Linked DNA regions of Homo sapiens. The protein of the gene in region 1 purifies or fractionates together with the protein of each later gene. This does not show direct contact. Each region holds a gene or a part of one and is shown in the gene's direction. Other genes may lie near its edges. The genes, in order: RBM17, RBM5, CHERP and GPATCH11.

The links.
Region 2: the proteins of RBM17 (region 1) and RBM5 purify together in Homo sapiens (co-immunoprecipitation; 3 studies listed by BioGRID and IntAct, with this or other methods). This does not show direct contact.
Region 3: the proteins of RBM17 (region 1) and CHERP purify together in Homo sapiens (co-immunoprecipitation; 5 studies listed by BioGRID and IntAct, with this or other methods). This does not show direct contact.
Region 4: the proteins of RBM17 (region 1) and GPATCH11 purify together in Homo sapiens (affinity purification with mass spectrometry; 3 studies listed by BioGRID and IntAct, with this or other methods). This does not show direct contact.

Annotation. Positions count from the first base shown.
Region 1 is NC_000010.11:6,091,713-6,099,468, forward strand, and holds part of RBM17 (splicing factor 45), read left to right. Parts: intron 1-5,335; 5' UTR 5,336-5,353; coding exon 5,354-5,476; intron 5,477-7,756. UniProt on the Homo sapiens protein: Splice factor that binds to the single-stranded 3'AG at the exon/intron border and promotes its utilization in the second catalytic step. Involved in the regulation of alternative splicing and the utilization of cryptic splice sites.
Region 2 is NC_000003.12:50,112,595-50,119,953, forward strand, and holds the end of RBM5 (RNA-binding protein 5), read left to right. Parts: intron 1-788; coding exon 789-950; intron 951-1,355; coding exon 1,356-1,505; intron 1,506-1,585; coding exon 1,586-1,657; intron 1,658-2,833; coding exon 2,834-3,013; intron 3,014-3,311; coding exon 3,312-3,386; intron 3,387-3,427; exon of another isoform or gene 3,428-4,479; coding exon 4,480-4,577; exon of another isoform or gene 4,578-4,655; coding exon 4,656-4,785; exon of another isoform or gene 4,786-5,654; intron 5,655-5,736; coding exon 5,737-5,862; 3' UTR 5,863-6,427; downstream 6,428-7,359. UniProt on the Homo sapiens protein: Component of the spliceosome A complex. Binds to ssRNA containing the consensus sequence 5'-AGGUAA-3'. Regulates alternative splicing of a number of mRNAs.
Region 3 is NC_000019.10:16,518,438-16,525,486, reverse strand, and holds part of CHERP (calcium homeostasis endoplasmic reticulum protein), read left to right. Parts: coding exon 1-245; intron 246-2,196; coding exon 2,197-2,435; intron 2,436-3,832; coding exon 3,833-3,966; intron 3,967-4,134; exon of another isoform or gene 4,135-4,574; coding exon 4,575-4,661; exon of another isoform or gene 4,662-4,979; coding exon 4,980-5,123; exon of another isoform or gene 5,124-5,221; coding exon 5,222-5,338; exon of another isoform or gene 5,339-5,393; intron 5,394-5,771; coding exon 5,772-5,866; intron 5,867-6,134; coding exon 6,135-6,328; 3' UTR 6,329-7,049. UniProt on the Homo sapiens protein: Involved in calcium homeostasis, growth and proliferation.
Region 4 is NC_000002.12:37,079,445-37,087,813, forward strand, and holds the start of GPATCH11 (G patch domain-containing protein 11), read left to right. Parts: upstream 1-5,073; 5' UTR 5,074-5,126; exon of another isoform or gene 5,127-5,142; intron 5,143-5,879; exon of another isoform or gene 5,880-5,948; intron 5,949-8,369. Other genes in the region: HEATR5B (HEAT repeat-containing protein 5B), read right to left, coding at 3,845-3,970.

The DNA of each region.
Region 1 (7,756 bases):
CTAGAGATACAAAGCTGAACATAAGAAACACCCCTGCCTTTAGGGGGCTTACACTGCAGGAAGAAACCGCTGTGTGAAACAATAGGCAGCATAACTTGCCAAGGTTGCTGTGATCTGAGTATGCTTGAGGAAACCAGTTGGGGGGGGTTAGTTTTATGTGGGGGCAATAGTCACTAAAGGCTTCTGAGATGCACTTGAAAGATAAGTAGGTGGGGTGCTTCTGAGAAGACTCTTCCATGTTCTTTTTCCTGCCAGTTGCACATGTTTTAAAAAAATACTTTCCAGCTTGGGTGGAATCTTGAAAACTCACCATTCTTCCTTCTGGCAGAACCATGTTTGTTATGTTTCCTAAGAAAAAATGTAGCATATATGAAACGTGGGTTGCTCAAAGGGAAGTGTTGCCACAAAAAGGAAGGAAATAGCAAATATTTTAAAGTTATAAAAACCAGCAATTTGTATTTACTTTTGATCCTGGCTTCTTATGGTATATCCAGTTGTTACAAAGTACAGCTTTTTGTTACCTGGCAGCAGACCTAATGAAATAAATGTGTTATGTTGTCTAAGTAATAATGTCAACGTTAATTAGGGTAAGTTTGGGTCTTGGCAGTCTTATTAATGTACTTATTACATTTCAGTAGTTGCGGTGGGGAGAATTAATGAACAAACTATTGTATATTAAATGCTTAATATAGCGAAAATAAAGAATACACACTTTTTAAGGAATAGATTAACTAAAACTGTAAATAAAATTAACATAAAAGGAGGAAAGCAAGGAAATAATGAGAAGAGGATTCCGGGGAAATTACATGAATGGGTTGGGGGAGTAGTATGGTTGAGTGTGGTTTCTTAGTCTAGATCCTGTCTTGTTTTGGGTGGTGAATTCACAGGTGCTTGCAGCATTATAATAATTAAACAAAAGCAGGTAATAAGTGTGTGAATGGATGAGAGTGTGATGTTACTATGATTAATCCCATTCTGTGAACTTAAAATTCAGTGAAAATGAGAAAAACGAAGAAAGCACTTTTGCATTTGCTGTGATGCAGAGATTTGATTTTATAAGCTCAATGTTACAGAAAACTAGCAGGTGCTGGTAAGATGACATCAGTTTCTAATATTTAAAGCGTTTTGCAGGTTTGAGAAGAGAAATGAGGACCTTTAAATGAGCATGAGATTTGCTGCCTGATGATTTCTGAAACTTTTGCGCAATGCAGCAAATCAACTGGAATTGTCAGTCAGCCATCTTAAATGACATGGAATCAGAGGAGATGTGTGGTCTCATAAAATCTCATTAATTCACTATTTAATTTTTGCTAAATATTGAATCTATTGATGGAAGAACTGTTGGCAGCTGAGATCTAGTACACTGCTAGATTTTTAGCCTCAAAGTTTAGAGAACTCTTTTCATCAGAGTTGACTCTTCTGGGGAGGGTGAGGAGTGTTGCCTCCCTCTCTGGGGGTTACTTCCTTCCCTTATTCCCCAGTGCTGCCTCTTTGCCTATTTATTTTTTATTTTATTTTTTTGAGACAGTCTCGCTCTATCATCCAGGCTGGAGTGCAGTGGTGCAATCTTGGCTCACTGCGACCTCCGCCTCCCGGGTTCAAGCAATTCTCCTATCTCACCCTCTTGTCTCAGCTGGGACAGGACTACAGGCGTGCAGCACCACACCTGGCTAGTTTTATATTTTTAATAGAGATGGGTTTTCACCACGTAGGCCAGGCTGGTCTCAAACTCCTGACCTCAAGTGATCCGCCCGCCTCGGTCTCCCAAAGTGCTGGGATTACAGGCATGAGCCACCGCAGCCGGCCCATTATTAGTATTTTAATAAAGCTTATTAAATGCTTGCTATATGACAGAAATTGTAGATGCAAAAATAAATAAGTGAATCTTTCCCCTCGAAGTTTAATGGGCATTTGGTTAACCCATTTCTGGTGGCACTAACGTATTCATAAACACTTTCGGTAAAGTTCTCAAGTTATAAAGAGAAATGGGTTGAGTATCCCTTACCCAAAATGCTTGGGACCAGAAGTGTTTCAGATTTCGGATATTTTTAGATTTTTAGAATGCCTGCATATACATAATGAGATACCTTGAGGATGCGACCCATGTCTAAACACAAAATTCATTTATGCTTCATATATACTTTCTACACATAGCCTGAATATGCAATATATGTCATACTTTTAATAATTTTATGCATGCAAAAAGATTTCACTCTGTTTTTGACTGTGACCCATCACATGAAGTCAAGTGTGGAATTTTTTTTTTTTTTTTTTTTTTTTGAGACAGAGTCTCACTCTGTCACACAGGCTGGAATGCAGTGGTGCAATCTTGGCTCACCGCAAGCTCTGCCTTCTGGGTTCACGCCATTCTCCCGCCTCAGCCTCCTGAGTAGCTGGGACTACAGGTGCCCGCCACCATGCCTGGCTAATTTTGTTTCTGTATTTTTAGTAGAGACGGGGTTTCACCGTGTTAGCCAGGATGGTCTCGATCTCCTGACCTCGTGATCCACCCGCCTCAGCCTCCCAAAGTGCTGGTATTAGAGGTGCGAGACACCGCACCCGGCCTGGTGTGGAATGTTCTACTTTGGGGTCATGTTGTTGCTCGGAACGTTTTAGGTTTTGAAGGATTTCAGATTTTCATACTGGAGATAGTCTGTATTGAGAAAAGCAAATATCTAGAGTTTAGTTTGAGTTGCAAACAAATTTTGATTTATCTTTGTGATTTCCCAGAAAGTCGCATTGTTTATTTCTCAGAATCTGTTAGTATTCCCTTTCCATTTTAAGAATAAAGAAAGAACAGAAGAACCTGTAGTTCAGTAGGCTTTGGTTTGCTGACCAGTTGGATGAAGAGGGCTCAAAAGATTAAACTAAGTTAGATGAAAGGTGCATGGTCATTTCTGAAGAAATGTGTTTGGGAGCCACAGTGCTAAGCTGGACACTCAGCATGGTTTTTCTGTGCTGTTGCTCTGTTTGAGTTTTCTTAGATTAAAATTTAAGGGTATGTATCTAGATGTGAACAATGAGTTTTGAGTTCTGGGTAAGCTGGAAGAAAAGTGTACAAAAGCCTCAAAAGCTGTTTGGTGCAGTGTTGTTCCTTCTGGCCAGTGATTATTGGCCAGAAATTTCTAATTGAGAGGGCTTCGCAAATGGAGTATAAACTGCAGTTTGGCCTCATTTCCTATTTAGCTGTGGGTTGGATATTGATCTTAGTCTGGGGATAGAGCAGTGAACAGAACAACCTGGATCTAGGTTTTCTTGGAGTTCAGAGTTATTAAACTAGGCTCTGAAGTGGACATCAGGGGATTCCCTCCAAGACTTTGAGGACATGGTTATATTTCATCCATATTTCTTAAGGAATGGAGTTCATTATTTTTTCTTGATTTGGCCTCAGTGCTTCAGGCCTGTCACGAGACATCCCCAAGTTCCTGAAAAAGGTCAGTTTTGCACTGAAGACATCTATCAGGAGGAGAGTCTGTCTGCATCCCGGCATCCCTTCATTCTTTTCTTTTCTTTTTTTTTTGGCGGAGTCTTTATCTGTCACCCAGGCTGGAGTGCAGTGGTGTGATCTTGGCTCACTGCAACATCCATCTCCCGGGTTCAGGCGATTATCATGCCTCACCCTCCGGAGTAGCTGGGATTACAGGCACCCACCACCACGCCCAGCTAATTTTTGTATTTTTAATAGAGACAGGTTTTCACCGTGTTGGCCAGGCTGATCTCTTAACTCCTGACCTCAAGTGATCCGCCCACCTATGCCTCCCAAAGTGCTGGGATTACAGGCGTGAGCCACCGTGCCTGACCATCCCTTCATTCTTATGTGATTCATTTGAGCAGTCGGCCATCAATACCCCTGGACAGTCTGCTTTCCCTGCTTCTCTACGGCCTTGCGGGGACCTTTCATTTAAAAATCAAAATGGAGAGGTTTTAGTTAATTTGAGGGTTCACGTATGAAGGAATGGAAGAAACTAAAAAGTGGTGACAGTTTTCTGGGGTGCTGACTTCAGGCAGGGAGTTACTGTACTTAAGACCAGGGCAGTTCTTCTGAGGGAACAGAAGTTGGTGTGCACTCCGTCCCCCACTCCACACAGTGTGGTACCAACATCAGCGAAGGTGTTGGGGCGGCAGGGTCTTAGAATCCCTGTAATGGGGGAGCTGAGAAGTAAGAGTACCTTCAAGAGAAATGCTTGCCGAATCAGACCTAAGGAGGGTATGTGTTAAATATTTTCCTCCTCTCCTGAGCCACAGAACACAAGCAAATTAGGCTTTTCAATAACACGGTTTCCATGGGAAAATGCTTTATGGGCCCCCTGGGAACTGACAGACTTATTTGTCCATAAACTGGGAACTACTGTGCTAAGCATTTACTTGCAATTTGTGGGTTTCTGTTTAAATTAAGTTCTCTTTCTGTCTGTGAGATTGATTTCTTATTTGAAGAAGTAAGCTATGTTGGTGGGTTTCAGAATGTTGATTTTTTTTTTAAAAAGTGGCAGTTGGGGTTCACTGGCGAGGGCTCTGGAGTTGGCCTGGCTGGGTTGGAAGGGGCTTCCGCTGTGGCCTTGGGCAGATTGATTCCCTAAACCCCAGCATCCATGTCTGTGCAGTGCTGGGCTTTCATGGGACCTGCTGCCGATGCTGCATTGCATGTCATGCTTTGCGCCTGCTGACTCGGTTTTTGTTTCCACGTGTTCCTCTGTTCTGCACGGAAGCTGTGTGTTGCTCGTTCACATGCAGATTGTTGATTGTCTCTTTGTAATCACTATCATTAAAGATGACAGATTTCCACTTGGTGTGATATGAGGAAATCAGAGTATTTAAGATGTAACCAGTCTACTCCCCCCTTGATAATTGTAATTGACAAAATCACATCTAAGAGATCATTTCTGTCATTTTTTTCCCTAGGAGTACGTTTAAATTTTTTCTTTATAAAAGGGTAGCTAATTGTGCTACATCAACCTGCTAATTGGTGTTTTTGTAAAGCTTCTACTTTTTGGCACTGACATAAATAGAATTTTTTAAAAATTGGATATATGTAATTAATAATGTTCCAATTCTTACCTCATTATGTGCCCTAGCATTGAAGGATTTCACTCATGGATCACTTGACTGCATGATCTTATAGATGGAAAAATGAATTTTAGAGGCTTATTTTAAAAATAATCCATGGTCTAGCTTCATGTATCAGGAATAGCCCTACATTAATGGTACCAGGAGCCTGGGCCTCTGTTGCTGAAAGGTCCTGGACCTTTTACCTCTAAAATTTCATGATACTTATTTTAACATGAAAAGCCTTTATTGAATTGTGCATTCTTTAATCCCCACCCCTTTTGCCTTTCAGCATTAAACTGAAGAAAAGATGTCCCTGTACGATGACCTAGGAGTGGAGACCAGTGACTCAAAAACAGAAGGCTGGTCCAAAAACTTCAAACTTCTGCAGTCTCAGCTTCAGGTGAAGAAGGCAGCTCTCACTCAGGCAAAGGTAAAGACAAGCCCAGAGCATGAGAGCAGAGGCCTCCAGAGTGGGTTCCTCATTAGGATGACAAGGAATTTGGTTTCAGCTTGCTCTTCTGCCTTTGTATTGGGTAAATGGTGTTAAGCATTTGTAGGGGGAGAGGAATGAGGAGTTTAAGGCCACTTTGCTACTCCTGGCTCCTGGGAATAGGAACATTTCGTGGGGTAGGAATGAAGAAAAACAGTACTCTGCGGGGGCTGGGCGCAGTGGCTCACGCCTGTAATCCCAGCATTTTGGGAGGCCAAGGCAGGCAGATCACGAGGTCAGGAGATCCAGACCATCCTGGCTAACAAGGTGAAACACCGCGGGCGCAGTGGTGGGCACCTGTACTGCCAGCTACTCGGGAGGCTGAGGCAGGAGAATGGCGTGAACCCGGGAGGCAGAGCTTGCAGTGAGCCGAGATCGCGCCACTGCGCTCCAGCCTGAGCGACAGAGCAAGACTCCGATTCAAAAACAAACAAACAAACAAACAAAAAAACAGTACTCTGAACCAGCAGTGACACTGCTTTTCAAACTTAAGTAGTGGAGGTCTAAGATTGAGTGAGAACTTGTTTAAGGTGCTAATTTTGTAGCCTTACTCCTGATATTCTGGTAAACTGTAGTTCAGGCTGGAGCCCCAGGAGTGGGAATTTTTAAGTAGCATTCCTACTGGTTTGGTGGAGGTAGTTTGGAAGCAGCACTTTGGGAAGAAGCTCCACAGAATACCTAAGCTGCTGCGTGCAACTTATTGAGGGCTCAGGTTGATTGTGAAGGCGTCAGGCATAGGTAGTCTGGATGCTGATTGCTTTTGTTTCTGTTGTGTACATGTTGGGTATTGGCAATGTCCTTGAAATAACATGTAAAACATTAAAAACCTAGTTGTCGACTGGATATTTGCCATTAAAATGTAGGCATGAGAATGGTATTATGGTTTGTTTACTACTTTAGAGATCTTTATGTTCTAGAGTATGCATTCGTAATGGAGGCTATATCCCCCCAAACAGAGCGAATATTGGTCTTTTTGGGGGTGAAAAAACCTTGCTCGTGTTGTGCACAGTGTATCTGTGGTGTGAAAATTTCATGTGCGGGAGAAAATTTAGTCAAAGGCTCCTTGCTGGGGAGGCAGTAATTAAAGTTGAGAAAAAGTACTTTAGAGATGTGTACTGAAATATTTACCGATAAGATGATGTCATTTTTGGGATTTACTTCTAAACAATTCAGTCCCGGGCAGGGGAGGGAGGGAAGAACAGAACTACCCATGAGTTGATAATTGTTGAAACTGGATGTGGATAGTAGAGACTTAAGAATTAATATTAATCTCTAATTTCATGTTTGAAAATTTCCGTAATACACAGGTTTTTTGTTTTTTTTTTTTTTTTTTTTTTTTTTTTTTGAGACGTAGTCTCACTTTGTAGCCCAGGCTGGAGCGCAGTGGCATGATCTCAGCTCACTGCAAGCTCCGCCTCCCAGGTTCACGCCATTCTCCTGTCTCAGCCTCCTGAGTAACTGGGACTACAGGCGCCCACCACTGCGCCTGCGGTGTTTCACCTTGTAAGCCAGGATGGTCTCGATTTCCTGACCTCGTGATCCGCCTGCCTTGGTCTCCCAAAGTGCTGGGATTACAGGCGTGAGCCACCGTGTCCGGCCAATACACAGGTTTTTTTTCTTAAAAGTTCTACTCATTTTTCTTTTCCCTTTACCACATCAATAGATACTTACATGGAAGTGCTTACATTTGATTGTTCAGTATTGTAGAGAGGTTTTTTTGTGTTTTTAAAATTCATCATTACCAAATTTAGATTTTTTGGATGCCAGTATTTTGTGTTTTTTTTAAAACAAGGTTTCATTCCAAATGTAAGGAGGGTTAGCAAAACCTCGTTTTTCTCTTTAATTTTTTTTAAAAGTACATTTATAAAATCTTTGTAGATTTCATGTAACTTTTGCTTTGCAGGGAAGATGCAGGTGTGAGCCACCGTGCCCGGCCTCATATAGATTTTTAAAACTTGAGGTAGCTTGTGAAGTTATTTCTACTAACTTTATAAAACTTTTGAGATTGCTATGTACAGTTAGTTTTGTGGGTTTTTTTTTTTAAGGGAAGTGAAGATTGCATTCTCTTAGGCTGTTTAGTTACTCAGAATACTAGATTGGCCTAGCCAAACCTGTAAAGGTATTTATTTGGTAGAGAAAATTTGAAGCTGTGGTTTCATTTGTATCTCCATTTGAAAAAATACAGTTGTTTCTTGGTGTCCACAGGGGATTGGTTCCAGG
Region 2 (7,359 bases), on another chromosome or scaffold:
TTCACCAACACCTCCTTCCAGCTCTGTGCTAGTGTTTACACCCTGTGTGTGGTTGCCTGGTATCCAATGGATTCTATGTGGATGGGCCCAATGATGAGCTGTTGTCATGGCAGATGTCTGAACTCCATGACACGCCCACCTGTTCTGGCTGCCTGGTTTATGTAAATAGTCTGTGGAACAGAGTGAGACAAATTGCTCTTTGGGTGCCCTCTAGGTAGGCCCAGGGATTAAATTAATGGGAACTAGACTTTTTAAATTTTTATTATCATTTTTTTTGAGATGGAGTCTTACTCTGTTGCCCAGACTGGAGTGCAGTGGCATGATCTTGGCTCACTGCCACCTCCTCCATCTCCCAGGTTCAAGCAGTTCTCTTGCCTCAGCCTCCTGAGTAGCTGGGATTACAGGTGTGCCATCATGCCCAGCTAATTTTTGTATTTTTAGTAGAGATGAGTTATCACCATGTTGGCCAGGCTGGTCTTGAACTCCTGACCTTGGGTGATCTGCCCACCACCACCTCCCAAAGTGCTAGGATTACGGGCATGAGCCACTGCTCCCGGCTGGGAACTAAACTTTTTAAAGAAATCATATTCTATTTTTACTCTAGCAGTGTCACACCTCTTTGCTAGGTGGTTCATCACCTTTACTTATACCAAGGTGTGCCCAGGGTCTTTTCTGGGCAGGAAATATCACTAGTCCACAACATACTTTATCTTTTTTTTGACAAAATATGTAATCGACTGACATAGCAGAAAGTCTGCATTAATTGTTTTTTGTTTGTTGTTTTCTAGTACTACTATAATTCCTTGACCCAGCAGTACCTTTACTGGGATGGGGAAAAAGAGACCTACGTGCCAGCTGCAGAGTCTAGCTCCCACCAGCAGTCGGGCCTGCCTCCTGCAAAAGAGGGGAAAGAGAAGAAGGAGAAACCCAAGAGCAAAACAGCCCAGCAGGTTAGAACATGACCCATATTTCTTTCATTGAGGTATTGGGCTGAACTCTTAGTTTTGGGGTTGTAGCATTTATGTCAGTATTATTTGGATTCTTAAAAATTGGGCTTCACATTTTATTCATACTAAGTTCTTAGAGCATTTTGCAATTTGTTATTGTTACCATATCTTGACTGTCAGCCTGTGTACTTAGGGAAAAAAGCCCTGGAAATCTCAAAGCTTTTCAAGCAGTATTTATGAATGACTTTGGTTATATGTGATAACATCTAATGGAAATATTTGTAGGTGGAAGTAAGAGTAAAAGGGGTTTGTTACAGGGCATATAGTTGAGATAAGATCCTTAATGGCTCATTCTCATGGCACAGGGGATTAAATATTTTTTTGTTGGTGTTTGTTGTTTGACATTAGATTGCCAAAGACATGGAACGCTGGGCTAAGAGTTTGAATAAGCAGAAAGAAAACTTTAAAAATAGCTTTCAGCCTGTCAATTCCTTGAGGGAAGAAGAAAGGAGAGAATCTGCTGCAGCAGACGCTGGCTTTGCTCTCTTTGAGAAGAAGGTAATAGCAGGAATGGCCAGTATGTCATGATGGGAACTTACCTAAAACTTGAGTCTCATGGCTTGTCCTCTGTTTCCCAGGGAGCCTTAGCTGAAAGGCAGCAGCTCATCCCAGAATTGGTGCGAAATGGAGATGAGGAGAATCCCCTCAAAGTAAGGGAGTACCACCAGTGTTTTAAAGACCCTATCTGTGGTTTGTGTCTCACTTTAAGGCTCAACTGCATCTTGGCTAATGTGATTCCTACTTAAAACTGAATGTGATCACTGTTGATGGGTATTGGAGCAGTTTCTGCACATAGATTCCATGTCGGGGCTTTGTTTTCTGTGAGAGCAGATGAGATGGAGTGATGAAAGAAGCTTCAATTCCTAAGCTCAGTTAATTAAGTTTCATTGCATCTGTGAGTGGAGAGTTTTAATGGTCTGGAAAGAGAAAATTAAGACAAGAAAAAGCTTGTTTTACTAGATAGATACTGGTCTGGGTGGGCCATTATTCTGATATGTTGTATTTGGGATTTTTATTTGTGGTCAGTGGTTTGAAAATAGTCACTCAGTCTAGGCAACATTGCAAGACTTCGTCTCTACTGAAAATTAGAAACAAATTAGTTGGGTGTGGTGGCTTGCATCTGTACTCCTAGCTACTTGGGATGCTAAGGTAAGAGAATTGCTTGAGCCCAGGAGATCAAGGCTGCAGTGAGCCACTGCACTTTTTGGGGATCATACCATTGCACTCCAGCCTGGGCAGTGAGCAAGACCCTGTCTCATTTAAAAAAAAAAAAAACAAAAACAGTCTTGGCACAGTGGCTCACACCTGTAATCCCAGCACTTTGGGAGGCCAAGGCAGGCGGATCATTTGAGGTCAGGAGTTCGAGATCAGCCTGACCAATGTGGTGAAACCCCATCTCTACTAAAAATGCAAAAGATTAGCCAGGGGTGGTGACAAGCGCCTGTAATCCCAGCTACTTGGGAGGCTGAGACACTTGAATCACTTGAACCTGGGAGGTGGAGGTTGCAGTGAGCTGAGATTACGCCACTGCACTCCAGCCTGGGCAACAGAGCGAGACTCCTTCTCCAAAGAAATAGAAAAAGGTAGTCACCCAGGAATCCATTTCTTAGGCTCCAAGAAGGTTGGTACCAGGAGGCTGTCAGGCCTAGCACTCAAGGACCTGACTGCTCCACGCAGTTGACAAAATGTGATTCATTACTAAAGTGTGACATGCAGTAATGGGGATTTGTTAACATTTCGGATGAGGCATTACTTTATCCAGGTACATAGCCACCGCCATCTTCCTATTGTACATTTCCAGTGACCTGTCCTCCTTTTGTCTCCAGAGGGGTCTGGTTGCTGCTTACAGTGGTGACAGTGACAATGAGGAGGAGCTGGTGGAGAGACTTGAGAGTGAGGAAGAGAAGCTAGCTGACTGGAAGAAGATGGCCTGTCTGCTCTGCCGGCGCCAGTTCCCGAACAAAGATGCCCTAGTCAGGCACCAGCAACTCTCAGACCTTCACAAGGTGGCCATGCTTCTGAGCTGATCTGAGGGGGCGAGGGGAGGCAGTGAGACAATTTGAGTGCCCTAACAGTCCTGACGGTTCCAAAAATACCTGCCATCTAATGATGGCCTTACAGAAAGCTGTTCCCGATGACAGTGGACGGAGTCTGGCAGCTCCACACACATCAAACTATAGTTTTTATGTGATTGTGTATTGTTTGGGCTTTGGCTCTTAAAGTACAGTAGATGTTACTAATGTTAGGACATTTCAAATTAAGATGGTCTGAGTCCTTACTGTGTCTTTCAAATCTTTTGTGTAGCAAAACATGGACATCTATCGACGATCCAGGCTGAGCGAGCAGGAGCTGGAAGCCTTGGAGCTAAGGGAGAGAGAGGTGAATGGGAAACTGTGCCACAAGGAAGAGGATATTGGGATAATTGCCTTTAGCTTTTATTTGTAGCATTTAGTTCCAGATCCCAGGGGCAGGGTAGGAGGATTTGTCATACCCTTGTCATCTGACCATTGTAGTTCATGTAGCCTAGACCCAGCCTCTGTGTGCCTTGTGAGCCTCACATTGTCCCTTCATCATAAGGGTGCACAAGGCAGAAGCACACTGCCGAGACTCTCTCACAGCAATGCCAGAGCTTGCTGCTTAAATACGCTGGATTTTGTTATGGAGAGAGTGGTCTAGTTTGGCCTGGCCAGGGAAGCCTTCATGGGCAAAGAAGTGCGCTTCAAATTAATCCCAAGGGACAGCAGGACGTGAGGTTATTGCAGGTGATATGAAAGGAAGGGTGGGCAGGGCATGGCAAGCAGATCTGGGAACAAAGGCAAGAGAGAAGCCTGTGACACAATAATGGGCAAGCAGTTAGTGCTGGTGGTTGGGGCAGGTTGGCGGCCAGGTGGGCAGGGATTTAAATGCAAATAGAGGCCTGTGGTTTAGAAATGAGCAAGTGGGTTTGAAATCTCCCACCTGAGATATTTCTGAAGTGTTTGTAGTTAAGGCTTTTGCTTTTCTTCTCCCCACACCCTTCCTGCCCTACTATCTATGGTTCCACCTCCCCAGCGACTGCTGAACAGGTCTCTGGAAGCCTCCTTGATGTTGGAGGTATGCCTTTCCAAATGTTGGAGGTATGCCTGTCCAAATGCTGAGGAGAACGGGCAACTCTGCCTTCCTCTTCGCAAGCTGTACCCACTGCCCAGTGGGCTGGTTGAGTAGCTTGACAGAGGGTGGCTAATTAAATAAAACTGCTTGTTGGAGACATAGTTCTGCCCCTGGTTCCACACAATTCATATTTACAAATTTAACATTTCAGATATGACTAGGTATGATGATGGGAACAAGGGAATTTGGTATTTCAGAGCAGTCTAAAAAAAGCATTCTTCAGATTTAAAAATACTTGAGGGGATAGTTTTGAATAGGTGCATTAGACGGTTACAGGTTGAAGTCTGTGAACATTTCCAGCAGTGTTTTTTCTCCCATGTAGATGAAATACCGAGACCGAGCTGCAGAAAGACGGGAGAAGTACGGCATTCCAGAACCTCCAGAGCCCAAGCGCAAGAAGCAGTTTGATGCCGGCACTGTGTATGTGATGTGCACATTTTCCAGTTCGTAAGCTGGGGCCCTGGCTGTTTTAAGTAACTGTGTGTTTGCCACTGGCAGGAATTACGAGCAACCCACCAAAGATGGCATTGACCACAGTAACATTGGCAACAAGATGCTGCAGGCCATGGGCTGGCGGGAAGGCTCTGGCTTGGGACGAAAGTGTCAAGGCATTACGGCTCCCATTGAGGTAAGCAGTGGGGTCAGGTCTTGATGTTTGCCAGGCTTACAGGCCGGTTCCAGAGATGAGATCAGAGCACTCATAGAGCCTGGGAGCCAGGAGCAGCTTTACCTTAGCATGAAGGGGCAGATTACAGGCATGAGCTCACACCTGTAATCCCAGCACTTTGGGAGGCCGAGGAGGGTGGATTGCCTGAGCCCAGAAGTTTGAGACCAGCCTGGGCAACACGGTGAAACCCCGTCTCTACTAAAATACAAAATATTAACTGGACGTGGCAGCGTGTGCCTGTAATCCCAGCTAGTCAGGAAGCTGAGGCAGGAGAATTGCTAGAACCTGGCAGGAGGAGGTTGCAGTGAGCCGAGATCACGCCACTGCACTCCAGCCTGGGCAACAGCGACTCTGTCTCAAAAAAAAAAAAAATTTAGTAGGGTTTTCACCCATGATAAGAAATCTTTAAATTGATCAGAGCCCACATTGAGGCATCATATCCCAGGATCGGAGGCCCCTACCCACTGGCCTTCTAGGCAGGAGCTCCACCCGTAATTGCCCCTGCTCTGTCCTGGGAGCACAGCTTAGGTCAGACTCTTGTAGACCATGTTCATCCTGTTTATGTGAGTTCTGCTGACATTGAGCTATCCTGTATAATGTGTGCCTGTAATTACCATACCTTTCCCAGACCTTCAGAGGAATACTTTGGGGCCCTTTCCTAGGCGTGGATGCTTGCTGAGCAGGCATTGAGGGGTGGGTGATTTGCTTCATCTGCCTGTGTTCCGTAGCCCATTTTATTCCTCCAGTCCTTATACTTGCTCCTGGTCTCTTCTGGAGAAATCCTTGTCTTCATATACAGTTTTCTCTCTTCTGTCTCCTGGTGGGTGGTCCTGCTGGGTAAGGAGTGGGCATGGTGAGAGGTGGAGCAGCCCATACCCTACCTCCCAGCTGACAGTCTCTGTGCTTTCCCAGGCTCAAGTTCGGCTAAAGGGAGCTGGCCTAGGAGCCAAAGGCAGCGCATATGGTTTGTCGGGCGCCGATTCCTACAAAGATGCTGTCCGGAAAGCCATGTTTGCCCGGTTCACTGAGATGGAGTGAGAGAGAGAGAGAGAGAGAGATGACAAGGAGCACAAGAAGTGGTCCATCTCCCGAATTCGCTGTTACCGCCTGTCTCTTTAAGGGCATGCCTTGTGCTGTTAATAGATCTTAGGGTGAACCACTTCATTCTGCAGGGTTCTCCCTCCCACCTTAAAGAAGTTCCCCTTATGTGGGTTGCCTGGTGAATGGCCTTCCTTCCCGCCAGAGGGCTTGTGAACAGACCGGAGAGGACAGTGGATTGTTTATACTCCAGTGTACATAGTGTAATGTAGCGTGTTTACATGTGTAGCCTATGTTGTGGTCCATCAGCCCCTCACATTCCTAGGGGTTTGAGATGCTGTAGGTGGTATGTGACACCAAAGCCACCTCTGTCATTTGTTGTGATGTCTTTTCTTGGCAAAAGCCTTGTGTATATTTGTATATTACACATTTGTACAGAATTTTGGAAGATTTTCAGTCTAGTTGCCAAATCTGGCTCCTTTACAAAAGAAATACCTTGAGAAATGGGTGTCCTGTGTCTCTTTATTCTTGGGTGGGTAGGTGGGTCAAGCATGTCTGAGCCAGTCAAGCCTGGTGATGAAATCAGTTTATTTCTTGCCCCCATCACCACGTTCTGATTGATTGATTGATTGATTTTGAGGCAGGGTTGGCCAGGCGTGGTGGCTCACACCTGTAATCCCAACACTTTGGGAGGCCGAGGCAGGTGGATTGCCTGAGGTCAGGAGTTTGAGACCAGTCTGGCCAACATGGTGAAACCCTGTCTCTACCAAAAATACAAAAAAATTAGCCAGACGTGGTGGTGTGCACCTGTAATCCCAGCTACTCGGGAGCCTGCAGCCTCGACCTCCCGGGCTCACGCGATTCTCCCACTTTAGTGTTCCAAGTAGCTGGGACTACAAGCACATACCACCATGCAGGCTAATTTTTTAATTTTTTACAGAGATGGGGCCTCACTCTGTTGCCCAGGCTGGTCTTGACATGTTCGGATTTTTAAATTCAAGAGTTTAACATGTTTTAGCCGGGCGTGGTGGCTCACGCCTGTAATCCCAGCACTTTGGGAGGCCGAGGCAGGCGGATCACCTGGCGTTGGGAGTTCAAGACCACCCTGACCAACATGGAGAAACCCGTCTCTACTAAAAATACAAAATTAGCTGGGTGTGGTTGGCCTGTAATCCCAGCTGCTCGGGAGGCTGAGGCAGGAGAATTGCTTGAACCCAGGAGGCGGAGTTTGCAGTGAGCCGGAGGTCGCGCCATTGCACTCTAGCCTGGGCAACCAGAGCAAAACTCCGTTTCAAAAAAAAAAAAAAAAAAAGTTTAGCATGTTTTAAAACTCTTCATGGAAATCATGGTAACTTAGTAGCTTTTCTGCTAAGACCAAAGTGACCATGAGTGCTTGCACCTCTCTAGTTTCCACAGACTTTATTCCACACATGCCGGAGTGTGGAGTTGTCACTGCTCTGCAGGGCAGATCCTCCCTGCTTTTGGCCATGATACAGG
Region 3 (7,049 bases), on another chromosome or scaffold:
GCACGAGCAGCCGCCCTGGGGCGGGGGCCAGCGCGAGCCACCCTTCCGCATGCAGCGGCCCCCACACTTCCGGGGGCCCTTCCCGCCCCACCAGCAGCACCCGCAGTTCAACCAGCCTCCGCACCCCCACAACTTCAACCGCTTCCCGCCCCGCTTCATGCAGGACGACTTCCCGCCACGGCACCCCTTCGAGCGGCCGCCCTATCCCCACCGCTTCGACTACCCCCAGGGGGACTTCCCTGCCGGTGAGTGTACGGGCGCCTGGGTAGGGCCTGGCGGAGGCATCCACGGCTCGCCTGCCGAGCAGGCTGGTGGCGCTGCTTGTGGCCCTGCCATGCTCCTGAGTGCACAGTGACAGACACAGGGTCATGGGACGTCCGAGGAGCCCGGCCTGGGTTCTCAGGAAGTGGGGGCACAGACTCAGTTTTGCCGCCCTGATGAGGCCCGGCTGGCTGCAGATGAGGCAGAGCCAGTAGGAAAAGGTTCCTGCCGTGGGTGGGCGTGGCGAGGGCAGGGCGGGGCCTCGTTCTTTTTACTGCTGCTGCTTGTTTTTTGCATCAGTTTTCCCGTTGTATTAGTTCGTTTAAAAAATCAATACTTGGCGTGGTGTCGGGCGCCTATGGTCCTAGCTGCTCAGAAGGCTGAGGTTGCGGTGAGCTGTGATCGCACCACTGTACTCCACCCTGGGCGACAGACCGCTGTCTCAAAAAAAAAAAACAAAAAACTACTTTTCTTTTTTAAAAAAATTTTATTTTATTTTAAATAGAGATGGGGTCTTGCTATGTTGGCCAGGCTACTTTCAAACTCCTGAGCTCAAGCAGTCATCCCACCTCAGCCTCTAGAGTAGCTGGGTCTACAGATGTGAGCCACCATGCCTAGTATCTTTGTTATTGATTTTATTTCTAATCTTTTAGTACTTTTTTTTTTTTTTGAGACAGAGTCTCACCCTGTTGCCCAGGCTGGAGTGCAATGGCACAATCTCAGCTCACTGCAACCTCCGCCTCCCAGATTCAGATGATTCTCCTGCCTCAGCCTCCCGAGTAGCTGGGATTACAGGTGTGCGCCACCATGCCTGGCTAATTTTTTGTGTCTTTAGTAGAGACAGGGTTTCACCATGTTGCCCAGGCTGGTCTCGAACTCCTGACCTCAGGTGATCCGCCCGCCTCGGCCTCCCAAAGTGCCGGGATGAAAGGTGTGAGCCACCTCGCTTGGCCTTTTGTTGTTGTTGTTTGTTGTTTTTTTGAGACTGAGCCTCACTGTCACGCAGGCTGGAGTGCAGTGGCACAGTCTCGGCTCACTGCAGCCTCCTCTTGGGTTCAAGTGATTCTTCCACCTTGGCCTCCTCAGTAGCTGGGATTACAGGCATCAGTCACTATGCCCAGCTAATTTTTGTATTTTTAGTAGATGGGGTTTCGCCATGTTGGCCAGGCTGGTCTCAAACTCTGGGCCTCAAGTGATCTACCCGCCTTGGCCTCCCAAAGTGCTGAGATTACAGGCGTGAGCCACCATGCCCAGCCTTCTCTCTTTAAATACATTTCTGATTATAAATGCAGCTTGAAGACCGCTTGGCACATTTATTGCTTTTACTTTTTGGCTTGGGCTGACATGATAAGTCCCACAGCCTGGACGGCTTCAACAGCTGGAATGTATTGTCTTAAGGATCTGGGGGCTGGAGGTCCAAGGTGGAGGTGTGGCGGGTTCAGGTTAGTGTCTTGGAGGCCTGTCTCCTTGGCTCATAGGTGACCGTCTTCTCTCTACATGTCTGTGTCCTAATCTCTTATTATAACGGCAACAGTCACGTTGGATTCGGGCCACTATGGCTTCATTTTAACTCATTTGTGTCTTTGAAGGCTCTGTCTCCAAATACAGTTCCGTCCTGAGCTACTGGGGGCTGGGACCTCAGCGTATGGATTCGGAGGGTCACAACTTAGCCCTCACCGTGCAGTTTTGGGGTTTTGGGGTTCTCTTCTCTCAGCCTCAAGCTCCCTCGGCTGTGCCTATGGGTGCGGGACAGGCCCCTCGGAGCCTGGCTCCTCGGTGCCTTGCTGCCTGGTCTTAAGCAGTGAGAGAAGATGCTGGACAGGCTCCCAGGAGGGGTTCGTCTCCTGGCCCTTCACTGAGCCCCTCCCCTCCAGCACTTGTCGCCTGGGAGATCCTGACTGGCCTGTGGTCCTGAGGCAAGTCTCTGTTTTGCAGAAATGGGGCCCCCTCACCACCACCCTGGCCACCGCATGCCTCATCCTGGCATCAACGAGCACCCGCCTTGGGCTGGACCCCAGCACCCTGACTTCGGCCCTCCCCCCCATGGCTTCAACGGGCAGCCCCCACACATGCGGCGACAGGGCCCACCCCACATCAACCACGATGACCCCAGCCTGGTCCCCAATGTGCCCTACTTCGATCTCCCTGCTGGGCTGATGGCCCCCCTCGTGAAGGTAATGCCCCACAGTGGGCTCCAAGCTGAGCACGCTTACCATACTGGTCCCCGTTTCTCCTTGTGAAAAGTGAATGCACGGGACCGGGTGCCTTCCGGGGCTCCCCTTCATCTCCCACTCCCTAGGGACCCTGATCCGTCAGTGGGAGGTGCCGAACCGGAGTAGCACGGTGTGGCTGTGAGCGACACCATGTCTGCCCTGCCCTGCCCCTCCTATCCCTCCCACCACAGGGAGCTTCAGCCATGTGGGGCTAGCTAGGCTATGAGGCTCGAGTCCTCTCTTCGTCCTTCTTGGTCCAGGGCCTCAGAAGCACCTTGTCCCAGGGCTGCTGATGGAGGGAATGTCTTAGAAGGAGCCACCTGTGAGCTGTGCCTACCAAGCACACAGGGAGGGGGGTGGCCCTGGAGAAGCCGGGCAGGGCTGGCAGCAGCTGGTACCACTGTGGGATGGCCGGAGCATAGGGCAAGAGGTGAGGCAAGAAGGGGCCAGGTCTGGCCAGGCGTAGTGGCTCACACCTGTAATCCCAGCACTTTGGGAGGCCGAGGCGGGCGGATCACGAGGTCAGGAGATCGAGACCATCCTGGCTAACACGGTGAAACCCCGTCTCTATTAAAAAATACAAAAAATTAGCCAGGCGTGGTGGCAGACGCCTGTAGTCCCAGCTGCTCGGGAGGCTGAGGCAGGAGAATGGCATGAACCCGGGAGGCGGAGCTTGCACTGAGCCGAGATCACGCCACTACACTCCAGCCTGGGCGAGAGCAGGACTCCGTCTCAAAAAAAAAAAGGGGGGGTTGGGGAGGCCAGGGCCGGGGCTTGGGGCCTCCAAGGGCATGCTGGCCACTGCCACTTCCCACCCCCTCAGACACATCCACCTGAAGTCCAGGCAGACTTCACGGAGCCATGGGCAGCAGGGAGAGCTGCGGGCGGGGGCCCAGGCAAGCCAGGCAGGGCAGGGCCTCAACAGGAGGACAGAGACGGAGCAGAAGAAGGATACAGGCCAGGGGGCTCCAGGGCCGGGGCTGAGGCTGTTCTGAGCGGGGGCCCAGGGTAGGCATTGCAAGCAAAGGGTGACGTGAGGGGCCCGCTGCATGTCTGAATAAACCAGAGGGTGTTCAGGTCACCTGAGTTTGGAGACCATGTCCCCTGTGGGTGATTTTCTGAAGAGAGAACCCTGTGACTGTCATCAGCCTCAGAGCAGCTATGACCCACCATGGTTGGTGTGGCTGAGGTCCTACAAGAGAGTGGGATCCCCAAGAGGGAAGCATGAGGAGCTCTGGTGCCCAGGGTACCCTTGACACTGAACCTGGGCCCTGCCCTGACCCCACTCCTTGCAGACCCTGGGTGGGCCTGAGAGGGCTCTGCCCAGGCATGGTGACAGCTGGGGTTCTCTGCTGCAGCTGGAAGATCACGAGTACAAGCCTTTGGACCCTAAAGACATCCGCCTCCCACCCCCCATGCCGCCCAGCGAGAGGCTGCTGGCTGCAGTGGAGGCCTTCTACAGCCCCCCGTCCCACGACAGGCCCAGGAACAGGTAAGGGGCCCAGGTCAGTGGGGTGGGCGGGAGGCCTCTGTCCCCTCTCCCGGCTCCCTGCAACCACACCTTCTGTCCAGGCTAGAAAATGTGGCTGTCCCTCAGGAGAAACTGCCCTCCCCCCGCCTGAGTGACAAGTGTGTGTCACAGGCACAGCACACACGTGGCCCTCAATGAAGGGCGTTTTAATGGAGACACATCAGAAGAAGTTAGGGAAGGTGTGGCACGGCGGCACGTCTCAAGCAGCCGGCTGCCACAGGGCCCTCAGCCCACCCTTCCCAGTGGTCACCCCTCCTTCCTGTGCTGGGCTGCAGGCCTGTCCACCCATGAGTCAGTGTTCCTGTTTCCCAGTTCCACAGACCATGGGTCCCCACCACCTCAGCGGAACAGCAGGGTGGCAAGGGCGTGGGCACCAGAGGAGCCACTGGGCTGCAGGAGGACAGCCCTGTGGGAACACTGAACCAAGCTCTACTGCGCCCATGCTCGGAGCCCACAGCCACAGGGCCATGTACTCTCCAAGGTTCTGTGGATTAACTCCTGATGACTTTTTCACGACTTCCTTGTGGGTGGGTGTCACGTGGTCACACACGGAATGCCGTGTCTTACAGTGAAGGCTGGGAGCAGAACGGCCTCTATGAGTTCTTCCGAGCAAAAATGCGGGCCCGGCGGAGGAAAGGCCAGGAGAAGAGGAACAGGTAAAAGCGCAGATGTCTGCAGTGGCCGGGGGGCCAGGGTCCACAGCTTGTGATGGGTGGGAGCAGACCCCAGATACACTCATCACGTCCACCCTCACACAGCCTGTGCCTATGGGGCGGTGTTTTCCACAAGGCCTGAATTCACACAGCAGCAGGCTCGGCCACACTATTTAGGAACTTGGTACCGTTGCTGTGGCTATGGCGCCACATCCACAGCCAGAGCCCCTGCATCTGGGGTGGTCTAGGAACCTGAGGGCCAGGGTGGGCTGGGTGCAGCCCATCCACTGGGGCACCTGATCATCAGGCCTCTCCCCACAGCGGACCCTCGAGGTCTCGGAGCAGATCCAAGAGTCGAGGGCGTTCTTCCTCCCGCTCCAACTCAAGATCCTCCAAGTCTTCAGGCTCGTACTCAAGGTCAAGGTCGCGCTCCTGCTCCCGTTCCTACTCCCGCTCCAGATCTAGGTAGGCAGAGGCTGCCTCAGGGCAGTGCCTGAGGCCTCTTCCTGTGGCCTCCCCACGACGCCTGGCTGCTGCTGACCCTTGGGCACCCTTCCCTGCAGAAGTCGGAGCAGGTCGCGCTCCTCCAGAAGCCGCTCCCGGTCCCAGTCGCGGTCCCGGTCCAAGTCGTACTCCCCAGGAAGAAGACGCCGGTCACGGTCCAGGAGCCCCACCCCGCCGTAAGATCCTGTCTTAAGTGCTGCGCTGGTAACTCTGGGAAGCTGCGGTGCTTTGCTGTGAATGTGGAAACATTGGTGGTTAGGAGACTGTGTTAGGAGGCCGCCAGCATTAGCCCGGGGACAGTGGCACCCCTCACCCTTCACCACAGTAGCCACTTGGCGAAGCCTGAGGCAGTAACTGGGGTCTGCTTTCTAACCACCATCTGGGTTGGAGGTGTCCTGCTCTCAATGCTGAGCGTGGGGTGGGGGCCAGCGTCTGGAGCCCCCTTATCTAGCTGAGACAGGATAAACGGGTAGAGACGCAAAATCTGCATACGGTGTCACCTGGTGACAGTGAGCATGCACGCAAGCTGCGGCTGTGAGGTCCTCATCACTGTCATTCCAATAAATGTCTCAGTTACTTCTTAAAAAGAATAACCTGTCTCGATTTTAGTTCCTCTGCTGGTCTGGGTTCTAATTCGGCGCCTCCCATCCCTGACTCAAGGCTCGGAGAAGAGAACAAAGGCCATCAGATGCTGGTGAAGATGGGTAAGGCGAGGGAATGGGGAGGGCGCGGGATGGGTCCTCACGCGTGCTGGGCCCGGGAGTCACCAGCGCTTTCTCTTCCTCAGTGCATGTGGGGATGGATGGAGTCAGGCCGGTTCTGACTCCACCCAGACCCTCTAGACAGGGCCGGCCTGCGGGTTCTCTCTACCCATTTCCCATGTCTACACTGCCTGTCTGGACATTCAGCCCCCCACGTGCACCCCCATCTGCCTCCGCCTTGTTGTGGTTGTGACTGCGTCTCTGTTTCCAGGCTGGAGCGGCTCAGGCGGCCTCGGTGCGAAGGAGCAAGGGATCCAGGACCCCATCAAGGGCGGGGACGTCCGGGATAAGTGGGACCAGTATAAAGGCGTGGGCGTGGCTCTGGATGACCCCTATGAGAACTACCGCAGGAACAAGAGCTACTCCTTCATCGCCCGCATGAAGGCCAGGGACGAGTGTAAGTAGGCGCCCATGCCGGGAGCCGCGCCGGTGGCCAGCGGTGCCGGCTGTGGGACCTTCCTGGCTGACTGGCAGAGGAAGATTGCAGTGACAGCTCAGTTCTTACACCGTCTCCACTTGTGGAGAGCCACAGGAAGAGAAGGAAGACCAGCGCATGCCCAGTGGGAACGCCGTGCTCCATGGCGTGGAGGGCACGGGTGCCACCCACAAACCACACCAGGAGGCGCTGCAGCCACCAGGGCCCCAGGCTCGTTTTCCTTTATAGCGAAGCAAAAAACACAAGACCCTCCGCCCGAGTAAATTCTTCAGCCACGAAGGGATGGATGTGCATCTGCCCTAAGTCAGATTGAAGCCTCCTCCTAGGCTCCAGGAGGAGCATGTGCAGGAAGGGTTGGCCTGAGCCAGAGCCGGCACCCCAGCTCCTTCCTCCAGCTCCCCGCACCCACCGGCCCTGACCTGGCTTCCCCTCGGCTGTGTAGGGACAAAGCCGAAGCCCAGTGCCATGACTGCCCGCGGATTGAAAAACAGAAACACAAAACTTTGACTTGACTTGCGAAGTGAAGCAGGGTTTTCATTTTTACTCTCCTTGGTTTAGGTCTAGAAAGAAGAATACTGACCTGAGAGGAGGCCCAGTGAGATTCTGAAACCTAATTCTTCGAAGGCGTACTGGCCCTTAGTTCAGTTATTTTAGTTGTATAAGTTGATATTTTTTTTCTGGAATGTAGCC
Region 4 (8,369 bases), on another chromosome or scaffold:
TGTATTAAACATAAACCGTGAGAATTTTCAAGTTAATGAAAAGTTCTGTAAGAAATGAGCCATTCTTTCCTACATTAAATATTCTCCTTCATGCTCCTCCAAAGCCAAAAGGTTAGCTCCAATAAAGTGACTCTGATTCAAAAAGTTATGAGACCAACTTACTAAGAAATAAACCAACAGCCAAAGGATGCAAAATATTGGGTGTATGGACAACTGATGTCTTACAACCCAGATAGGTTTCCTATGTAAAAGTGAAGTCAGTAGTTCATAAAGTTACAGGTCAGCAAATGAAACCAAAAGAAACTGAAGAGCCCTAGACAACAGGAAAAAAAAATACCCAGCTCTACCCATAATCAATATCTAGAATTCATTTATTTATTCAAACAATATTTATTATGTACTTAACGTATGCCACATACTAGGGTGCAACAGTGAACAAAATAGACAAACAAGTCCCTGCCCTCATTAAGTTTACATTCTAGTGAGGAGGGACAGAGTTTACCAAACAAACAAATGAATAGTATGGGTGGTTACTGTTTTACGTGGATTAATTAGAAAAGGCCTCTCTCTGAAAAGAAGTGAAGGGGTGAGCCATGCAGATACCCAGGGGAAGAACATTCCAGGCTGAAGGAACAAGTATAAAGGCCTTGAGGTTGGAGCATTCTTAGCATCCTTAAAGACACCAAGAAGGCCAGTTTGGCTGCAGTGGAGTAAGAGAAAGTAGTAAGAGATGAATTCAGAAGGATAGAAGGGACCACATCAGGTAATCTCTTGCACCCCACTATAGAACTCTGTATGTCACTCTCAGTAAGAGAACTTTGTATGTTACTCTGAGTAAGAGTTTGAAGCAGAGGAGGGTCGTGATCTAAATGTTTTTAACAGGCTCACTCTGACTTCTAAGAATACTCTATATGGTCCATAAATGGAAAGCATCATGACCAAATAGGAAGCAGATGCAATAATCCAGATGAGAGATAATAGCGGTAACCATAGAGATGATAAATAAACTCTGGATTTGTTTGTGGATGAAACCATAGGATTTGCTGGTGAATACAACATGAAATTTGAGAAAAAGAGGGAAGTCAAAAATGACTCTATGGTTTTCCCTTGAGCAACTAGAAGGATGAAATGGTCATTTCCTGAGATAGAGAACATGGGGGAAAGGGCAGGTTTGGGAGGAGAAATCAAGAATTTGGTTTGGGTATGTTAACTCTGAGATGCCACTTAGATAAGAAAGAGGTGGAGTAAACATTATCCTGGGAATCATTATTTTATAGATGATAGTAAAAATCATACAATTAGATGATATCACTGAAGGAATATGTACAGATTAAAAAAAAAAAAATGCCCTGAACTGAGGAAGAGTTAAAAAAGAACAAGAAGTAGTAGTTAGTGAAGTGGGAGAGGAACCAAAACCTAACAGCGTCTTGGGAAGCCACGAACAGGAAGAAAACTTCACACAAACTGTGCAAAGCAATGATAACAATCTTATTGTTTAATTTGGGTGGAGGGTGTACAGATATTCATATTATGCTTCCTGTTTTATACACTCTTGTATTTATCAATTTCAGAACAAAATTAAAGACGTTTTAAGTGTTTCAAGGTGAAAAGATGGAGATGGATCAAATAAGACAGAATACTGACCACTGTTCTGGGCAATCTGTCATCAGTAATGGCTGGACAAGTGCTGTTTCAGTGGAGTGGAAGTAAATCCCCAGTTGTAGAGGATTTAAGAGAAAACAGAAACGTCTAGTTGACAATTACAAGTGAATCCATGCATTGTTTTTTTTTTATACTTCAAGTTCTAGGGTACATGTGCACAATGTGCAGGTTTGCTACATATGTATACATGTGCCATGTTGGTGTGCTGCACCCATTAACTCGTCATTTACATTAGGTCATGCATTGACTGTTTCTATAGAAATTCCATTAAAACCATACTAAAGGGTAGCAACAACAACAGGAACAATAACAACAAAGCACAAATCCAAAGGGTAAAGAAAACAGGAGAAAGAATCAACACAGTATTTGGAAACCAACTGTTCCCAACAGGGAAAGCTGCAAAATGACCTAACTTACAACACAGGACCCCCTAAGAGATCACGGTTTTTTTAAGCCCTAGGTGCTTTTGGAGGTGGGAGTGAAGTTGTATGTACCTTGAGATAGAGGGAATGGTTGAGAGTCTAATAAGCAGAAAGAATCCTCTTCTTCATTATGGAAGCAGACTGAAAGTTTATTCTCTGGGAAGAGTGAAATATTGTATGTCCAGACTAGAAGAGTCCAGGCACAGTTGCGGTCTGGGAAAACTGCACTGAAAATGGGGAGATGCAGTGAAAGTTCACATACTGAACTTTAAAGTCCCCAGTCTTCTCCCACAACTCCAAGAATGTAGCCAGCTAGCTATATACTCTTCAGACACGACAGTAGAAAAGTATCTTCTGGGGAATGACTAGCCTACAGAAACCTAAAATACTAAGGTCAGGGACCAAACTAGCCTACAGTGAAGTCCAGTTTAAAAGACTGGCCCTGCTGAGAAAAGTTTTTACTACTCACTTTTAAATTTGATCAGGCAGCCAAAGATCATCAGACATTTGAGGGAAGTATCTACTTTTTTTTTTTTTTTTTTTTTTTTTTTTTTTTTTCAGATGGAGTTTCACTCTTGTCCCCCGGGCTGGAGTGCATTAGTGCGATCTCGGCTCCTTGCAACCTCTGCCTTTCCGGCTCAAGCGATTCTCCTGCCTCAGCCTCCCCAGTAGCTGGGATTACAGGCGCCCACGACCACGCCTGGCTAATTTTCGTACTTTTAGCAGTGTTTAGTAGAAACGGGGTTTCACCATGTTGGCCAGGCTAGTCTGGAACTCCTGACCTCAGGTGATCCACCCACCTCAGCTTCCCAACGTGCTGGGATTACAGGCGTGAACCACCATGCCGGGCCATATCTACTTTTAAAGACAGAATATAAAATACACAGACAATAAAAAGTAAGTTGAATCAATGTTGGGAACTGGCTCCAAAACTGGCCATAAATAAAATCTCTGCAGCACTGTGACATGTTCATGATGGCCATAACGAAACCCGAATGAGGGCAAGGAACACCTGGCCTGAAAACCGCTTAAAGGCGCTCTTAAACCACAAACAATACCATGAGCGATCTGCGCCTTAAGGGCATGTTCCTGCTGCACAGAACTAGCCAGACCCACCCCTTTGTTTCAGCATACCCCTTCGTTTCCCATAAGGGATACTTTTAGCTAATCGAATATCTGTAGAAACAATGTTAATGGCTGGCTTGCTGTTAATAGACACTTGAGTAAATCTCTGTTCCGGGGTCTCAGCTCTGAAGCCTGTGAGACCCCTGATTTCCCACTTTACACCTCTATATTTCTGTGTGTGTCTTTAATTCCTCTAGCGCCGCTAGGTTAGGGTCTCCCCAAACGAGCTGGTCTCGGCAAATCAAGGCTATGCAGGAAGAAAAAACAGATTAAAAAAAAAAAAGAGCCTATTATTGACTCCTCAAAGAGATAAGTGAAGACACTGGGATTGTTAGGCAGCATAGAGAGATCACTTGCAACGGGTGACGATGATAAATTTAAAGTGACACCAGTCATATAGCCATGTTTTTCTCCAGTTACAATGAGCTGCCCAGGTACAAACATAAAGAAGATAGGCAATGAGCTGGATTTAAACGAGGTTTGAGTTTTGCCACTAAATTTCCCATTCGTGTAATACTCTCAAGTTCCATAAGTGACCCATAAACCTTCCAAAACATAACATGTGTTTTCTTAAGAATCATGACCACATAATCTCTTCACGTTAATGCAACTGGGAAAAAAGAGCAATACCATACCTTGTTGGCAGCAACCAAGACTTTATCAAGAAATCGCAACCATTCAAAGATGAAAACTGGTCTTTTTGCTTCGGTGATTTGAGCCAAAGCTTCTTCATTTAGCAATAAACTGTGGGCTAACTCCATTACGGAAGTTTGAAATTCACACCTTAAATTTAACAGAGTAAAAAATACTTGTAAGTATTTTTTAATGTTAAAAGTCAAGCTTAATGGAATATACTCACTAAGAAAAGTAGGACTACTCATTTCATTTGGGGAAAAACTCAACTTCTTTGAGGCAAAACCTGAGAACATACTTTTAAATGACAAAAATACAAACAAAAACAGAAGAAAACTACTTGGTAAGGAAGAGTGACTCATGGAGTGAAAAGAAAATTAAAAGAAATTATTGCCAAAAAAGGCATTATTCCAGAAGAAATATGTCCAGCAACACATATGTCATTTACCCGTTCTATAAATGAAAAAACTGAAGCACTAAGATCAAACACCCCAGCCGGGCTTGACAACCATCCTCCTCTTTTTCTCGTCCAGGGTTCGGTACATAGCACCTTTACCCTCCCGCGCTGCACCTGGCCAGAGGGACTGAGGTCAAAACACCCAGCACAGACATCCCGAACTGCAGGTCTCCAAGACTCTTCCTACGCGGATGGGTGGGGCGGCCAGGCCCGGCGGCCGAAGCGTCAGTGACAACACCAGGCGGTCCGGAATGCACCCGAGAAGCCTCGCGCGCTCGGGGTCTGGCTTCACCTGGCTACTCCAAGAACCGCAAGCGGCGGACCCGGGGAAACACCAAGAGGCCGCCGCAAGCCTCCGTGGGGTTCCGCAGGCTGTCAATAGCACGAGGCGGCAGCTCGGAACTAAGCACGGAGCCAGAAAAGGGAAAATGTTCATTACGAACTCAAATGTCTTCCCCACCCGTCTGAAAATGTACGTCGGACAGGAGTCCGTGCGTGTCAACATGCATGCTTCGGCGACCTCACCTCGTAGTCTGGAAGGGAAGATCAGCTGAGCTCCGGGGGTAGAAGCAGCCACCAAGAGACCCGGATGCCCCACCTCCCGCACTCCTACCTGCAGGAAACAAGGGAAGAGCGCTTGCGCGGAGGGCTGGTCTTGCGCAAGCGCAGTCACCACGTCCTCCTATCCCCACCCGCCGCGAATTTCCAATAGAGTCTGCACTAGGAAACTGGTGGGAGCCGAGGTCCGGAAGTCCGACGCTGGTCGGTGGGCGCATGCGCAGCGCGCGCTCTACGGCGCTGAACCGGGGCGAGCAGAGAGCTGTCAGGTAAGAGAGCTGTCAGGTAAGGGTCTGGGGACAACCGGTAGAATGATAAAAGGCAGAGTGCGCTGGCCATGACTACCGTATCACACCGTCAGCCACTTTTCCATCCGTGGGTGGTTGCGTCTGTGGGACGCTTGCAGCCAGGAGGAACGCGTGAGGGAAGGGATCAGCGGTTCCTGAGCGTAGTATTGAGAGTGGGACGTTTCTTGTCACATTTATACTGTAGGTCCATTTCTCCACTTGTATATGTAATGGGACTCTCAATATGTCTGTTTCCCGACTACGCCCCCTAAAAAAACAAAAACAAACCTACTCCTACAGTCTTCCCACTCTCAAAAAACGTTAACTCCGTTCTTCCATGTATTCAGGCCAAAAACTTAGCGTTATCTTGACATCGTTCTTTACGTACTACCTACAACATCAGCAAATCCTGTAAGCTCTACCTTCAAGTGTACCCCAAATGCGACCACTTGCATTGCTATCACTCTGGTACGAGCCTCCATCATCTCTGCCAGGGTATCGCCTTGTGAAGTTTATGCTTATCTTTGATGGAAATGGATAATGCTAAAGTATATTTTACCAATAGAAAGAGAGCTTTAAAAGCAACCTGTAACCCCATTCAGATGTGCCTGGCACTTTAAAGTTAAGTAGGTCTCTTAAAAACAATGTAATCCTATTTGCAAGGCACTATGACCCGGATTCTTTGTGGTTTTGAAATAGTCATTTAGCCATACTGAACCTTAATTTCTCCAACAGGAAAAACTCTTCCTACCTTGTAGAGTTGTTAGTGGTGGTTAAATGTGATAAAAATGTGTGATATACTGGGTAAGTGTTAAACCATTATGTGTAAAAATGCTGTTATTACCAATGAAGAATCTGAGGTTTAGAGGAAGCGGGTGAATTACCATAAATGCTGTATATAATAGTGCACGTTTTTAACTTATAATAAAAATAGGTAAACTAAACTGTAATGTTTAAAGATGCACACGTGGATGACAAAACTATCGAGAAAATGAAGGAAATGATTGCCATAAAAAACAGAATAGTGACTATTCTTAGAACCAAAAGAGAGTTGCAACTGGATAGGGGACAAAGAGGGCTCCCAGGTGCCTGATAAGGTTCTACTTCCTGATAACTTTTGCTACATAACAAATTATCCCCAAATGTAGCAGCTTAAGATAACTGTAATCATTTGTTATCTCACAGTTTCTATGGGTCAGGAATTTGTTAGCAGCTTAGCTTAGTTTAGCATGGACTTTCTTAAGAAGTTGCAGTGAAGATGCCAGCCCAGGCTGAGTCATTTGAAGGCCTGACTGGAGCAAGAGAATCCATTTCCAAGGTAGCTCACTCCTGTGGCTCATGAGTTTGTGCTGGCTTTTAATAGGAGGACTCAGTTCCAATCGTGTGACCTTCTCCATAGAGCTTCTTGAGTATCCTTATTATGTGACCACTGACTTCCTTCAAGTGAGTCATCTAACTTCAAAGTTAGAATGACCTAAGAGCTGCAGTTATGACCAAAAAATCAACTCCATCATCTCCACAAAATCCTGTTGGTTACACAGGTTAATCCTGTTCACTGTGGAAGGAGACTACACTAAGGATGTAGAAAACCACACAGCAAGAATGACTGGGAGTCATTTTGGAGGGTACCACATGGTTACAAGAATGTTTGACTCACAGAAATGTATTAAGCTGTACATTTGTTTTATGTGTTTTCTGTACGTATTTAAAAAGTGTTTAAAAATGACTTGTTGACATAGGAAAAAGTTATAAAATTACAAATATTAAAGACCCTTTTTATCCTCATTGTTGCTAAACAATTATTAAGCATTTGTGTTTGGGATGCAGTGGTAGGTAGGGAGGATATAGGGGACTTGTCTTTGTGTTTAACACAAGATATACATTATCTAGTTGAGAAGATATACATTAAAAATATAAAAAACCAGGCCAGGTGTGGTGGCTCACGCCTGTAATCCCAGCACTTTGGGAGACCGAGTGAGGCAGGTGGATCACTTGAGGCCAGGAGTTTGAGACCAGCCTGGCCAACATGGCAAAACCCTGTCTCTATTAAAAACACAAAAATTAGCTGGGTGTGGTGGTGGATGCCTGTAATCCCAGCTACTCGGGAGGCTGAGGCATGAGAATTGCTTGAACTCGGCAGGTGTAGGTTGCAGTCAGCTGAGATCACACCACTGCACTCCAGCCTGGGTGATAGAACGAGATTCTGTCTCAAAAAACAAAAAAGAAAACCATTAAAAATTAGTATAGTAATCCTTTTTTCATCCAGTGTAATTGTCTAGACACTTGGTTGCAGTTGACAGAAACCCTACTTCAGCAAGCTTAAGTAATGCAGAAATGTATTAGTCTATGTAATGGGGTAGAATGCTAAGTCGCAGCTTCAAAGAATCCGCAGCCTTGGAAACTAGGCTCATTTTCTCTATCTGGCTTCATTCTTCAGACAAGATCCCTTCATGGGGCCAAGAAGATGGCCATCCACAGCCCAGCTTCACATTCTCCCAGTTCAGAAACACCCATAAAAGACCTTCTTTCCCCCACAACCCATATATTCATATAATGTAAGGAAAAAGATGGTTATTTCTCTGGCTGGGTCATCTCGTCCCCTGGTGCTGGACATAGAGTACTATAATTGACCATCTTTGTGCCCAAGGAAATATGGGATACTGACATTGCCACCCTCCACTAAAACCACATGAAGGGCAGAGGGTTGGATTCCCAAAGGAAAAGATGGTAGGCAGGAAAAAACAGTACATATGCACCACAACAAGTGAATACACTTTTGTCTTAAGCAACTGAACTAGCAACATTGACATTGCCTGTGAACCTGCTAGAAATGCAGAACCTCAGGTTCCAGCCCCAGAATCAGATTCTGCATTTTAAGAAGATCTCAGTGCAATTTGTATACACAATAAAGTTTGAGAAGTACTTTTGTAGAAAATTACTTTAACCCTTTAAGGGCCAATAATTACATGATTTTAACTATTTTGGATAGAAACTGTCCCTCAAAATATTTCCACATAAGTGAGTTGTTAACTATATCAACTTCCAAATGAGCAGCTTGGACATAAAGTGCTGTAGAGAAAGGCCTGGAGTGGTCAGGAGAGGTTTCTGAAGGGAGGGTAGCCTTGGCCTACAGGGAAGAAATGTTTGTACTCTGTTCAGAGGGCAGTGAGGAGCCATGGGGCTTGAATAATGAATCCTTAGGGACAGTTGTGTCAGATTATGAAG